2 linked regions of the Homo sapiens genome follow. The protein of the gene in region 2 purifies or fractionates together with the protein of the main gene of each other region. This does not show direct contact. Each region holds a gene or a part of one and is shown on either strand. Other genes may lie near its edges.

What was found. The genes of interacting proteins can lie anywhere in the genome.
Region 1: the proteins of UTP6 (region 2) and GBP1 purify together in Homo sapiens (affinity purification with mass spectrometry; 2 studies listed by BioGRID and IntAct, with this or other methods). This does not show direct contact.

The regions. Positions count from the first base shown.
Region 1 is NC_000001.11:89,062,201-89,069,582, forward strand, and holds the start of GBP1 (guanylate-binding protein 1), read right to left. Parts: upstream 3,009-7,382; 5' UTR 2,960-3,008; intron 1,054-2,959; 5' UTR 1,035-1,053; coding exon 845-1,034; intron 1-844.
Region 2 is NC_000017.11:31,870,697-31,877,722, forward strand, and holds part of UTP6 (U3 small nucleolar RNA-associated protein 6 homolog), read right to left. Parts: intron 4,718-7,026; coding exon 4,538-4,717; intron 3,058-4,537; coding exon 2,977-3,057; intron 2,792-2,976; coding exon 2,682-2,791; intron 1-2,681. UniProt on the Homo sapiens protein: Part of the small subunit (SSU) processome, first precursor of the small eukaryotic ribosomal subunit.

The DNA of each region.
Region 1 (7,382 bases), on a different chromosome or scaffold from region 2:
ATATTCAGACACCCATGTTCCTATTAGCATTATTTATAATAGACAAAAGGTGGAAGAAATCCAAGTGTCCATTGACAGATGAAGAGATAAACAAATTAGTATACACGTACAATTACTAAGCCTTAAAAAGGAAGAGTTTTGACACATGCTAACACACTGATGAACCTTGAAGACATATGAATTGAAATAAGCCAGTCATAAAAGGACAAATATTGAATGATTCCACTTATATAAGGTTTCTGTAGTAGTCAAATTCATAGAGATAGAATGTAGAATGATGGCAGGCAATGGGTTTATGTGGAGCTTTTGTTTAGTTAATACAGTTTCTGTTAGGCAAGATGAAAGATTTCTGGATATGGATGGAGGTGACAGCTGTATAACAATGTGAATTTCATTAATGCTACAGAGCTGTACACTTAAAAATGGTTACGAGGTTAAATTTTATTTTTTTTACAACAACAAAAAATAATATCCACTACAGATTGAAACATTTTTTCAACCTTAAAGATCACTGTGAACTCTGTTATTGCATAAAAATTGTAATAAACATTGTATAGTTTATTATAGTTATTATTATGTACATTAATTATTTTTATTACTGTCTTACTCCTTTTAGGAGAGGCATAATTTGTGCTTTTGAAATGGAAACTAAGGTATCATGGGAATAATTAATGAATTGATTCTTATCCCCTAGAACAGCGTGAAGATAAGGAGCCCGACTGTGAATGGAAAGTTAGCTTTCAGTATTCATCCTCATCTCTTTCTCTCCTCACATCTTCATAATGGAGGCTGACTGTGTAGATGGACAGAAGGGACTTGGCAGAGCTTTGCTCATGCCACTCACCCTTTTTCTTTCCAGCCAGCTTGTTCATCAGGTAGGATTTGCCTGTGCGGTAGAGGCCCACAATTGCCACCACCACCATAGGCTGTGTAATGGCAGAAAGGATCTTCAGAGCTTCTGGATTCGCCATCAGTCGCCCATTAGTGTTCTCAATGAGGCACATTGGGCCTGTCATGTGGATCTCTGATGCCATGTCCAGGCTGTTCCCTTGTCTGCAAGAGAAGAGGTGAAATACATGAGAATTTCTAGTGTTTTGCAATTATAAGGGAGAATCATAAGATTCCCCAGTATGGCCAAAAGTTTTGTGTGTGACAGCAAAAGAGATGAGGCAAAATCTGTATCATTTGAGAAAGTTATGGAAGTATTGTCAAAGTAGCTCATTATGAAAAATGTTAGCATGACAGTGACTTATCAACACTCAACTACTCTCACGACCCAAATATTTCATTTAGTTTATTGTGGAAAACTTTCTTTTTGGATTCTTATTAGATATTTTCACTAGTCAATTAATGGAAGATAGAATAGGATTTAGAGGATTTATTTGCATCCTGGCTGTATGTAAGGAATTCAATATTGATTCACTTATTAATTCTCACAGTGAATAAACATCCAACACAGTGAATCAGTATTCATAGTTTGATGTTTACCCTTAGAAAAATTTCCAAAGATTTTTAAATGTGTTCCTTCCTCCATCTTCAAATGATTATGCTTATTTCACTGCAATGAGGATTGACAAAGCTTCTCACATTGCCATTCTGGAAGTGGTAACAATGTAACATACTTTTGCAAATTTTATAAAACTATACAACCATGTGAAACACATGGCTAGGGAACCTTCCAAGGGCTCCTAAGGGTCATGTCCAAGAGAAGGGCCCTGAAACTTAAGCTTCATTAGAGTCACGATAAGATAGCTTCTAAGTCACTGAGGGTATGAATGCAAAATTGCAAATACTGAATGTTTCCTCCAGATAATAAGGATTAAAAGATCAAGAGGCAGATAAAGAGAGCTACCTAGGAAGTTGTTCAAATAAAATATATTTCCAGCGATACAGCTTTAGGATTTCTGTTTTGTTCTGTTTTCCATTTGGTAGGGTAGGAGAAAGAGAAATAGAAAGAGGAGGAATAGTAGGAGTGGAGAGGAGGATAAGGGGCTGGGAATGTGTGTGTGTGTGTGTGTGTGTGTGTGTGTGTGTGTGTGTGAGAGAGAGAGAGAGAGAGAGAGAGAGAGAGAGAGGAGCTGTCAGACCAGAGGTGATGAATGAGGCTAGTGTCTTGACAAGGCATTCAGGGGAAGACTTTGCAGAAGGCAGGATCAAAGTAGTCTGAGTGCATGGAGAGGTTAAAGTAAGCAAAGATATTTTCTGTAGAGATGCATTACAGGAGAATTAAAGAGGAAACACTTTTGGCCCTGCTCTCTACTAAAAGAAGACAAAATTGGAAGCACTTCAGTGAAGCAGTGGGGTTGAATTTCACTTCTAAGGGACAGGGATCAGTGGGCACTAGGAAATTAGTGAGTCTGGACTATTTCTAAAGAAAGTAATCCATTCTGAAACAAAGTTCACAAGTGTAATAAAAAGTATACTGTTTTCATGAATCTTCATCTTTCAGGCTGAGTTTCAGTTTTTTCTTTGTCTTTAACCGTGTCAGTGGGCTGCTTACTCTGCTTCTCATTTGCTGTTCTTTCCTTCCATGAAAAGAACCCGTTTGTAACTCTTCCATTTCTTAGCTGCATAGAAGCAGGATTCAGTCCATCACTGACGATGGAAATGTAATCATATCCCTAGTCAACATAGATAATGTCAACAAAGAGAAAGACTATCCTAGTACATTTCAAATGCTCAGTTTAGCCCCTGTCTACTGGTGCCTAATTCAACACAAGCACTGTAGTGGCACTTAAGGCCATGCTGTCCCTGATAACACCAGGATTTCATCTGACCTGCGTCCCACTTCAGGCTCATCTGCAGCCTAATTTGGTTCTGATGATGTTTAAGAAAATGAACTGACCTTTATAAATTCCTTCCCATCCCTGCCACAACCTTATAGGTTCCATATCACTGAGCTGAGATCCTTTGGAGCTAGAGAGAAAGCTGCTTGATGAGAAGTAGTAAAAGTTCTTACCTGTTCTTTTTCTCCTTAGTTCACGAGCACTGGCTTCTAGCACTTCTGTGTCTCTCACTGGATCCCTGGACTAATATTTCACTGTTCCGAAGTTGTAGGGCTGGGATTTCCTCATTGATGAAATATTTAGAAGCTAAGCAGATTTGTAATGGATTTAGAGTAATATGAAACTGAAAGTACTTCGTTCAAATCACTGACTCCACTACCATAAATGGAATTAGTGGAGTGTGCCAGTGGGAGGGTTTAAAGATTTCTCAACCAGAAGCTTCAAATTTTTTTTGTTGTTGTTGGAAATCTTAGAGACCATTTGTTGTCTAACAAAATGCCCATTAGGTTTTGAATACAATGATACATGTCTCATGGATTGAGTCAATTTGAGAAACCTAGAATGAGGAGGCATCATGTTAATTTTCAGCTACAATTTCCTAAAATAATAGACACACTCTCAATGGAGCTGCCTATTCTTTGAGAGGTGCAGTACATAAGGAAAGGACATGTTTAACACACTCATGAACACCTAACCCCTGGCACTTAATGCCCAGCACACAGCCAGGAGGGGGCTCCATGTGTTGTACTCATGTTCTAGGCTCAGTACTGATGGCTTTACATGAATCGCACAACTGAAAACTCATAATATTTCCTCATGGTTTTATAGAAACTGAGCACAGAAAGACTTTATTAGTTGTCTAAAATCATAACACTGTAACTAATCTGAACCCAAGCACTCATGATCCCATACCCTCTTCTTGAACCACTTCACTATGCTGCTTATTTACTAAGTGAAAAATTGTAGAAATATTTTATTTATAGGTTTTTTATTTTTAAATTTATTATAGTGTGATTTTATTTTTATAGATTGTTTTCTAAGAGCTGTTTGTGTTTTATGTCTAATTCAGTAATGACTTCTAGCATACAGAATAAGTGGCATTATCTCTATTTTACAGCAAAAGCAAATAAAATAGTAAAAAGCCTGAGTGAACATTTCATTTAAAAATATATTTATAGTGATGTGGTTTCACTTTGTTGCTTAGGTTGGTCTTGAACTCCTTCCTTCAAATGATCCCCCTGCCTCGGCCTCCCAAATTGCTGGGATTATAGGCATGAGCCACCAGACCCAACCTTGTGTGAGCATTTCTTTTTTTTTCTTTTTCTTTTTCTTTTTTTTTTTTTTTTTTTTTGAGATGGAGTTTCACTCTTGTTGCCCAGGCTGGAGTGCAGTGGCACGATCTCGGCTCACTGCAACCTCCGCCTCCTGGGTTCAATCAATTCTCCTGCCTCAGCCTCCCAAGTAGCTGGGACTACAGGCATGTACCACTATCCTGGCTAATTTTGTATTTTTAGTAGAGATGGGGTTTCTCCATGGTGGTCAGGCTGGTCTCGAACTCCCGACCTCAGATGATCCACCCACCTTGGCCTCCCAAAGTGCTGGGATTACAAGTGTGAGCCACCAGGCCTGGCCAAGCATTTCTCACTTACACATTAAAATTATATATTAGATGTATATAAATTGCAGATACAGTGTCTTTTCTCATTCATACTTTGTAAAATAATTTTATCTAAACTCTTTCTATCATCCTTCCTTAACACTGTAGCTCCTTTATTATTAAAACTACTTTAAAGTCTTTTACTTTTTAGAGCATAACATTCTTACATCTGTCAAAATTATTTGAACCATTTAAAATCTCTGCAGATTGTCCTGGAAGTGTAGGGGTGGGTTGCCCCTCCACACCTGTGGGTGTTTCTCGTAAGGTGGAACGAGAGACTTAGGAAAGAAAAAGACACAGAGACAAAGTAGAGAGAAAGAAATAAGGGGAGCCGGGGAACCAGCGTTCAGCATATGGAGGATCCCGCCAGCCTCTGAGTTCCCTTAGTATTTATTGATCATTCGTGGGTGTTTCTCCGAGAGGGGGATGTGTCAGGGTCACAAGACAATTGTGGGGAGAGGGTCAGCAGACAAACACGTGAACAAAGGTCTTTGCATCATAGACAAGGTAAAGGATTAAGTGCTGTGCTTTTAGATACGCATACACATAAACATCTCAATGCTTTACAAAGCAGTATTGCTGCCCGCATGTCCCACCTCCAGCCTTAAGGTGGTTTTTCCCTATCTCAGTAGATGGAACATACAATCGGGTTTTATACCGAGACATTCCATTGCCCAGGGACGGGCAGGAGACAGATGCCTTCCTCTTGTCTCAACTGCAAGAGGCATGCCTTCCTCTTATACTAATCCTCCTCAGCACAGACCCTTTACGGGTGTCGGGCTGGGGGACGGTCAGGTCTTTCCCTTCCCACAAGGCCATATTTCAGACTATCACATGGGGGGAAACCTTGGACAATACCTGGCTTTCCTAGGCAGAGGTCCCTGAGGCCTTCCACAGTTTTTGTGTCCCTGGGTACTTGAGATTAGGGAGTGGTGATGACTCTTAAGGAGCGTGCTGCCTTCAAGCATCTGTTTAACAAAGCACATCTTGCACCGCCCTTAATCCATTTAACCCTGAGTTTGACACAGCACATGTTTCAGAGAGCACGGGGTTGGGGGTAAGGTCACAGAATCTCAAGGCAGAAGAATTTTTCTTAGTACATAACAAAATGGAGTCTCCCATGTCTACTTCTTTCTACACAGACACAGTGACAATCTGATCTCTCTTGCTTTTCCCCACAGGAAGCATACATCACAATGAAACATCTATTCAAGGAGAGCTCCTATAACTCCGGTAAGAATAACAAGAATCTGTGGCACTTGACCCTTGGGCCTCTTCATCCTCATTTTCAGTTCGGGTTGACAAAAGGTCCACTACTGGGGGCTATGGAAAGAAGGTGGGGCTGCCTCTTCTCTCACATTCTGAGCAGGGATGACATATCCTATCAGGAGTGCCAGTCCACCAGAATTTTTCATCCCCTCCAATAGTGAGTTGTAAAGACTAAATTTCTGGTGAGTGTGACCAGAAGTCAAGGGCTCCCAAACTTTCCCAGTCCCACTCATAGAGCAGAGGCTCCATAACTGCCCAACAGGTTCTCCTTGCCTGTTGCCTAGGTAGAGCTGATTTATCAAGACAGGGGAATTGCAGTAGAGAAAGCGTTTAATTCACGCAGAGCTGGCTGTATGGGATTCTCAAGTTTTATTATTACTCAAAAGATTCTCCCTGATAATGTGGGTATGGGGGTTTCTGAGGATAATTTGGTGGGTAGGAGGTTGGGGAGTGGGGAGTGCTGATTGGCTGGGTTAGGGATGAAATCACAGGGCATCAAAGTTGTCCTCTTGCATGAGTTGGTTCCTGGCTGGGGGCCACAAGACCAGATGAGCCAGTTTATTGACCTGGATGGCAATTGGAGAGGTCTGGAATCTTGTGGCCTCTAGCTGCATGACTCTCAGACCACAGTTTCTAATCTCATGGCTGATTTGTTAGTCTTGCAAAGTTAGTCTAGTTCTCAGGGAAGAAGGGGTTTTATTTTGGGAAAAGGCTGACTAAATTCCTTCCAATGTCAGTTTGGCCTATGCTCAGGGATGAACAAGGACAGCTTGGAGGTTAGAAGTAAGATAGAGTCAGGTCAGATCTCTTTCACATAATAATATTCTCAGTTATAATTTTTGCAAGAAGATTTCAGCTTTAGCTCAGGAATGGCAGAATGAGAAACCCTGGCCTGTCACCCTCACTCTGGTTCACTTGTAGGGTGGTTTTTCCGTGTTGGGAGGGGCAACTGGCAAAGAGCAGAAGCTACCACCTCTGCCCATTCGAAGGGGTCATGGCTCAGAGATATTTTCCAGAGAGAGAGAGGCAGTCCATAAAATCAGAGCTCCAAAGCTTTTCCCACAGAAACTGACTTTATTTGAAAAAGAGTGTGGGCCGGGGGGAGATTCAAGCCTGGAAACATAAATAAAATTTACTACTAGATGACTGACTTTACAAGAAATACTATTAATAAAAGAAGGTTTTCAGGCAGAAAGCAGATGACTCCAGATGGCAATACACATCCACATGGACAAACAAAGAGCACCAGTAAGATAATTATATAGTTATAAAAGACTGTATAAATGCATATTTCTTCTTATTTCTCTTTTTAACTAATTTTTAAAAGACAGTTGTATAAAGCAATATGTATATAATTGTGTTTCAGGCTCATAACATATAGAAACGTGATATACTTAAGAACAGGACAAGAGAGGACAGTAGGAGCGAAGCTGCATTGGAATAAAGAAATGACAGCAGATGTTAACTTGAACCCCCAGGAATACATTAAGAGAACCTGAAACTGTAAGTTAACATAACAAGCTCTATACATTTATACCTTCCCCTTCAGCTTCTTTAAAAGACATAAAATTATGTGAATTAATTATAACAATGTATTATATTGTTTGAACATATATTTAACGTATTTAATAGTATCAAAAAAGTGAGAAAACTAGTATTTTTAGATTTAT
Region 2 (7,026 bases):
GTATTTTTAGTAGAGACAGGGTTTCACCATATTAGCCAGGATGGTCTCGATCTCCTGACCTCGTGATCCGTCTGCCTCGACCTCCCAAAGTGCTGGGATTACAGGCATGAGCCACCGCACCTGGATGTTTTTGTTTTGAGACAGGGTCTCACTCTGTCACCAAGGCTGGAGTGTACTAGCACAAACACGGCTCACTACAGCCTCAACCACCTGGACTCAAGTGATCCTCTGACTTCAGCTTCCCAAGTAGCTAAAATCACAGGCACATGCCATGACACCCAACTTTTTAAGTTTTTTTTTTTTTTTTTTTTGAGATGGAGTCTTGCTCTGTCGCCCAGGCTGGAATGCAGTGGCGCGATCTCAGCTCACTGAAAGCTCCGCCTCCCAGGTTCACGCCATGCTCCTGCCTTAGCCTCCCAAGTAGCTGGGAATACAGGCGCCTGCCACCACGCCCGGCTAATTTTTTGTATTTTTTTTAGTAGAGACGGGGTTTCATCGTGTTAGCCAGGATGGTCTCGAACTCCTGACCTTGTGATCCGCCCGCCTCGGCCTCCTAAAGTGCTAGGATTACAGGCATGAGCCACCGCACCCGGCCTTTTAACTTTTCATAGAAATGAAGTCTCGTTGTGTTGCCCACGCTCGTCTCAAATGCTTGGGATCAAGCAATCCTCTTGTCTCAGTCTCCCAAAATCCTGAGATTAGAGGCCTTGAACCACCGTGCCCAGCTCATATAGCTATGTTTAATAAATGATGTTTATAAAGAATTTTTGGCTGGGCACAGTGCCTCATACCTACAATCCCAGCCCTTTGGGAGGCCAAGGCAGGAAGATCACTGGAAGCCATAAGGTCAAGATCAGTTTAAGCAACAAGGCGAGACCCTGACTCTGCAAAAAAATTTAAGAATTAGCGGGGCATCGCCAGGCATGGTAGCTCATGCCTGTAATCCCAGCATTTTGGGAGGCTGAGCTGGGCAGATTGCTTGGGCCCAGGAGTTCAAGACCAGCCTGGGCAACACAGTGAAACCCCATCTCTACTAAAAATAAAAAATTACCTGGGTGTGGTGGCACACACCTGTAGTCCCAGCTACTTGGGAAGCTAACGCACAAGAATCACTTGAACCAGGAAGGCAGAGTTTGCAGTGAGCCAAGATGGCGCCATTACACTCAGCCTGGGCAACAGAGCAAGACTCTGTCTCAAAGAAAAAAAAAATATTTAGGCCGGGCACAGTGGCTCACACCTGTAATCCCAACACTTAGGGAGGCCGAGGCGGGCAGGTCACCAGAGGTCAGGAGTTCGAGACCAGCCTAGCCAACATGGCAAAAACCCTTATCTACTAAAAATATAAAAAATTAGCCGGGCGTCGTGGCACATGCCTGTAATCCCAGCTACTCAGGAGGCTGAGGCAGGAGAATCGCTTGAACCCGGGAGGCAGAAGTTGCAGTGAGCCGAGACTGTACCACTGCACTCCAGCCTGGGCAACACAGTGAGACTCCATCTCAAAAAAAAAAAGAAATTTTTTTTAAATCATAAATAAAATTACAGTTATACTATAATCTCAACTACATAAAAACAAATTTTAAAATTATGTGTTAACAGTAATTTTTCCTTCGATGATGTAATAAATTATCATGGTTATGTTTTCCCCCACCACAATGAACTGCTTTTATTGTTCAAAAAAAAGAAAAAGAAGGCCAGGCATGGTGGCTTACACTTATAATCCTAGCACTTTGGGAGGCTGAGGCAGGAGGACTGCTTGAGCCCAGGAGTTTGAGACCAGGCTGAACAATGTTGTGAGACTCAGTCTCTACCAAAAAAAAAAAATGTTTTAAGTTAGCTGGACATGGTGGTACATGCCTGTAGACCCAGACATTTGGGAGGCTGAGGTGGGCGGACTGCTTGAGCCCAGAAGGTCAAGGCTTCGGTGAACCATGATTGTGCCACTACACTCTAACCTAGGTGACAGAGCGAGAACCTGTCTCAAAAAAGAAAAGGAAACATTACTTTTTGAAAAAGTTCACTGGAGGCCAAATGCACTGGCTCATGCCTGTAATCCCAGCACTTTGAGAGGCCAAGACAAGCAAATCACTTGAGATCAGCAGTTCGAGACCAGCCTGGCCAACATGATGAAACCGTCTCTACTAAATTACAAAATTAGCCGGGCGTGGTGTCACACATCTGTAATCCCAGCTATTCAGGAGGCTAAGGCGGGAGAATCACTGTCTCAAAAAAACAAAAAAAAAACAAAAAAAAAGGAAAATGAAACAGTGTATTGGGTCAGGTGTGGTGCCTCATGCCTGTAATCCCTGCACTTTGGGAGGCTGAGGTGGGCAGATCACCTGAGGTTAGGAGTTTGAGACCAGCCTGGCCAACATGGTGAAACCTTGTCTTTAAAATCTAAAATTTAAAAATTAGCCAGGCGTGGTGGCAGGTGCCTGTAATCCTAGCTACTCGGGAAGCCGAGGCAGGAGAATCACTTGAACGCAGGAGGCGGAGATTGCAGTGAGCAGAGATTGTGCCACTGCACTCCAGCCTGGGCAACAGAGCAAGACTCCATCTTAAAAAAAAAGAAAAAGTGTATCAGATTACTCCCTCAGATGCTATCTGTGATTCAAATAATCTGGGTATGAGCGGCTGAGCATGGGGTAGAGGGACTAGTAACAACTATGAACGTCTGTGAGTACCTTTTAAACACAGCTCTGGCCTTTTTGTAGCCACCACTTCGATAAGCCCAATCCAGGTACTTATTCTTCAGGGTTACTGAGTCGGCACCTATGACAGCTAAGAGAGCTTTCTACAATTTAAAAGAAAAAAGAAAGAAGCTATGTGAGAAAACTTATAGATACCAAAACAGATTTTCCCAGAACCACCTGAGGCCACTCCATAGTGCTTTAGGCGCACCTGCAACACTAGAGCTGACCAACCAGGGAACCTTCTGCCATTCCCCACACCACAAGACTTGGAACACGGAGCCTATACCTTAAAGACTGCCTCAGTGTCTTCTTGGCTTTTGGCACCTTCACTCCACTCTGCCCAGGAAATCCACAATGGCAGACAAACCTACTCCCAGTTTAAAAAATGTTAGTTAGAGAACAGCATATAACAAAACATCGCATGTACCCTATAAATATGTAAAATATTATGTATCAATTTTTTTATGCTATAAAATGACAGTTTAGTCCTATGCTCTGAAAACTAGTTAAAAAGGCAGGTTCCTCCTAAGATAATCAACATGTAAAATAGGGATTCATTCCCAAACAGTCCTCATTGTGACAGAATTCTCATTGCCCAGCAGGAATGGCACTCCAGAACACAGCCAGCCTTCTGACCAAGTCACTCAGAGCAACACTCTTCTGTGAATTTTAGTTCCTTTCTATTGGGAAATATTTCATGTAGTTATCATCAATCATCTTTTAGTTAAGTAAGTAATTAACAGCCCACACAGTTAGACCCACAGCTACCCAGGTCATGTCTCTGCTGTCTAAGACCCACAACACAAGAACTAATTAATCTAGGCTGAACTATCTGATCTTCATTCATGTCCCAGAGGTACGTACAAATGAGCAGCAAAAGCGAGGCATGGTGGCGCACATTTGCAATCCCAGCACTTTAAAGACGGAGGCAGGCGGATCACTTGAGGCCAGGAGTTCAAGACCAGCCTGGCCAACATGGCAAAACCCTGTCTCTACTAAAAATACAAAAATTAGCTGGGCATGGTGGTGGGCACTTCTTATCCCAGCTACTTGGGAGGCTGAGACAGGAGAATCGCTTGAACCTGGGAGGTGGAGGTTGCAGTGAGCCAAGTTTGCACCACTGCACTCCAGCCTGGGCAACAGAACAAGACTTCATCTCAAAAAAAAGGAAAAACCACCAAATGAGCAGTAGTTTTTTTCCTACTTTATCTTCTGGAATACGTTTTACCTACTAATATAAAAAATTCACTGCAAAGTGAATCTGGCCATACACCGTGGCTCACGCCTGTAATCTCAGCACTTTGGGAGGCCAAGGCGGGCAGATCACTTGAGGCTAGGAGTTCCAGACCAGCCTGGCCAACATGGAGATATCCTGTCTCTACTAAAATAGAAAATATTAGTCAGGTGTGATGGCATGCGCCTGTAGTCCCAGCTACTCGGGAGGCTGAGGCAGGAGAATTGCCTGAACCCGGGAGGCAGAGATTGCAGTGAGCTGAGATCACGCCACTGCACTCCAGCCTGGACAACAGAGCGAGACTCCATCTTAAAAAAAAAAAAAAAAAAGGTTGGGCTTATATTCAGCAAGTGACATTAATATTCTACTGGTATTTCTAACTTTATAAGATATCTAAATAGAATAGGAAGTTTTATTTAATTTGGTTAACTTTCAAATAAAGGATATTAAATAGAAGCAAATTCTTCTACTCTTAACCTATGAACCATCACCACTGAATAGCAAATGCCACTCTAGAGTTGGCTCTCAATAGACAAGTACATTCCAAATGAGCCTTGGCTAGTCTTAAAAGGTTTCCCAAATATAATGAATACAAAAGATCCAGCTCACTGACCTGGGGTTTCAGGTGCACAAAGGCTTCTTCAAAAAGCATGGCTATGTCAGGGCTCTTTGACTCGATCAGCACCTGCAGCTTCAGCTGCCACATTGTCCCAGAGTCTCTAAACAATTCAGTTCCAGCTACTGCCACTTCCAGAGCTTCCCTCAGGAAGTTATAACACAGCAACGAAACACTCTAGACAAGATGAAGGATGACTGGAAAATTAATTACTGAAACCCAAACAATCTATGTAAATGTAAACCTATGCCTCATTTGAGGCAAGAATTTCACCAACCTTTCCACTACAATTTAAAATAAAAAAGAGGCCAGGTGTGGTGGCTCACACCTGTAACCCCAGCACTTTGGGAGGCCCAGGCGGGCACATCACGAGCTCAGGAGATCAAGACCATCCCGGCCAACATGGTGAAACCCCGTCTCTACTAAAAACACAAAAATTAGCTGGGTGTGGTGGTATGCATCTGTAATCCCAGCTACTCGGAAGGCTGAGGCAGAAGAATCGCTTGAATCCAGGAGGTGGAGATTGCAGTGAGCTGAGATCACACCACTGCACTCCAACCTCGGCGACAGAGCAACTCTATCTCAAAAAAAAAAAAAAAAAAGAAAAGAAATGAGCTATGTGATAACTTATAGGTATCAAAACAAATTTTCCATGGCTGTTAAACAGGCACGAAGTGAACAATTTAGAATTTCTCCTATTTTCACTGCTCCTACCCATGAGGGTTATCCAAAAACAGGGAAGACGTAAAAACCAGAGAACCTAAAGAATTTAGACTGTAAGTTAGGTTTTTTTGTTTTTCTTTTTCTTTTTTTTGGAGACAGAGTTTTGCTCTGTAACCCAGCCTGGAGTACAGTGGCGCAATGATCTCGGCTCACTGCAACCTCCAACTCCTGGGTTCAAGCAATTCTCCTCCCTCAGCCTCCCGAGTAGCTGGGACGACAGGCGCCCATCGCCACGCCTGGTTAATTTTTTGTATTTTAGTAGAAATGGGGTTTCACCATGTTGGCCAGGCTGGTCTTAAACTCCTGACCTCAGATGATCCACCCACCTCGGCCTCCCAAAGTGCTGGGATTACAGGCGTGAGCCACCATGCCCAGCATATAAGTTTTTAATAAAACAGTTCACAGCCAGGCATGGTGGCTCACGCCTGTAATCCCAGCACTTTGGGAGGCTGAGGCAGGCAGATCACCTAAGGTCGGGAGTTCAAGACCAGCCTGACCAACATGGAGAAACCCTGTCACTACTAAAAATACAAAATTAGCCAGGCGTGGTGGTGCATGCTTGTAATTCCGGCTACTCGGGAGGCTGAGTCAGGAGAATTGCTTGAACCCAGGAGGCGGAGGTTGAGGTGAGCCAAGATCATGCCATTGCACTCCAGCCTGGGCAACAAGAGCGAAACTCCGTCTCAAAAAAATAATAAATAAATAAAAACAAAACAGTTCACTATGCCAGAACACATGCTCACCAAACAGAGGATGAAAATTAACAAATAGGCTGCGCTCAGTGGCTCACGCCTGTAATCCCAGCACTTTGGGAGGCCAAGGCAGGCAGATCACCTGAGGTCAAGAGCTCAAGACCAGCTTAGCCAACATGGTGAAACCTTGTTTCTACTAAAAATACAAAAATTAGCTAGGTGTGTTGGTGCACGCCTGTAATCCCAGCTACTCGGGAGGATGAGTTGGGAGAATCACTTAAACCTGGGAGGAGGAAGTTGCAGTGGGCCAAGATCATGCCACTACACTCCAGGCTGGGTGACAGAGCAAGACTCTGTCTCCAAAAAAATTTTAAAAATCAATAAACAAAAATCAATCCACAAAATCAGTATTTGTGGAGTGTCAAGGAAACAGGTATATTCAAACAGAGTTGGACATAACATAAACTAAAGCAAATTTTTCTGAAATTCAATTTGACAGTTTGTAGCAAGAGTCATGAAAGTGCTCAACGCTTCAATTTGGGACTTCTACATTAACAAATATGGTCCAAAAAATACATGAATGAAAGGAAATTTTACCTGTTCAAAATGCTTATACCTACATTATTTGAAAAAGAGAAAAAACCTAAAAACAATCCAATTGTACAAATTTGTGAAAAATTAAATGACAGTATATAATCAGTACATTCAGCAAGCATTTTTATTGCACACTATATGTGCTAGATTCAATAGTGAACAAATCAGATGCATTCCCTACCACCCATAGAGCCTCCAGTCTAAGAGACAAAACGGTTTGATATGTTTCTTCCGACAGAAGATGAATCATCTAGGCTGGGCACAGTGGCTCACGCCTGAAAGACCAAGTTAGAAAGCCAGGCACGGCCAGGAGCAGTGGATCATGCCTGTAATCTCAGCACTTTGGGAGGCTGAGGCAGTCAGATCGCTTGAGGTCAGGAGCTCAAGACCAGCCTGGCCAACATAGTGAAACTCTGTCCCTACTAAAAATACAAAAATTTGGCCAGGCATGATGGCTCATGCCTTAGTCCCAGCACT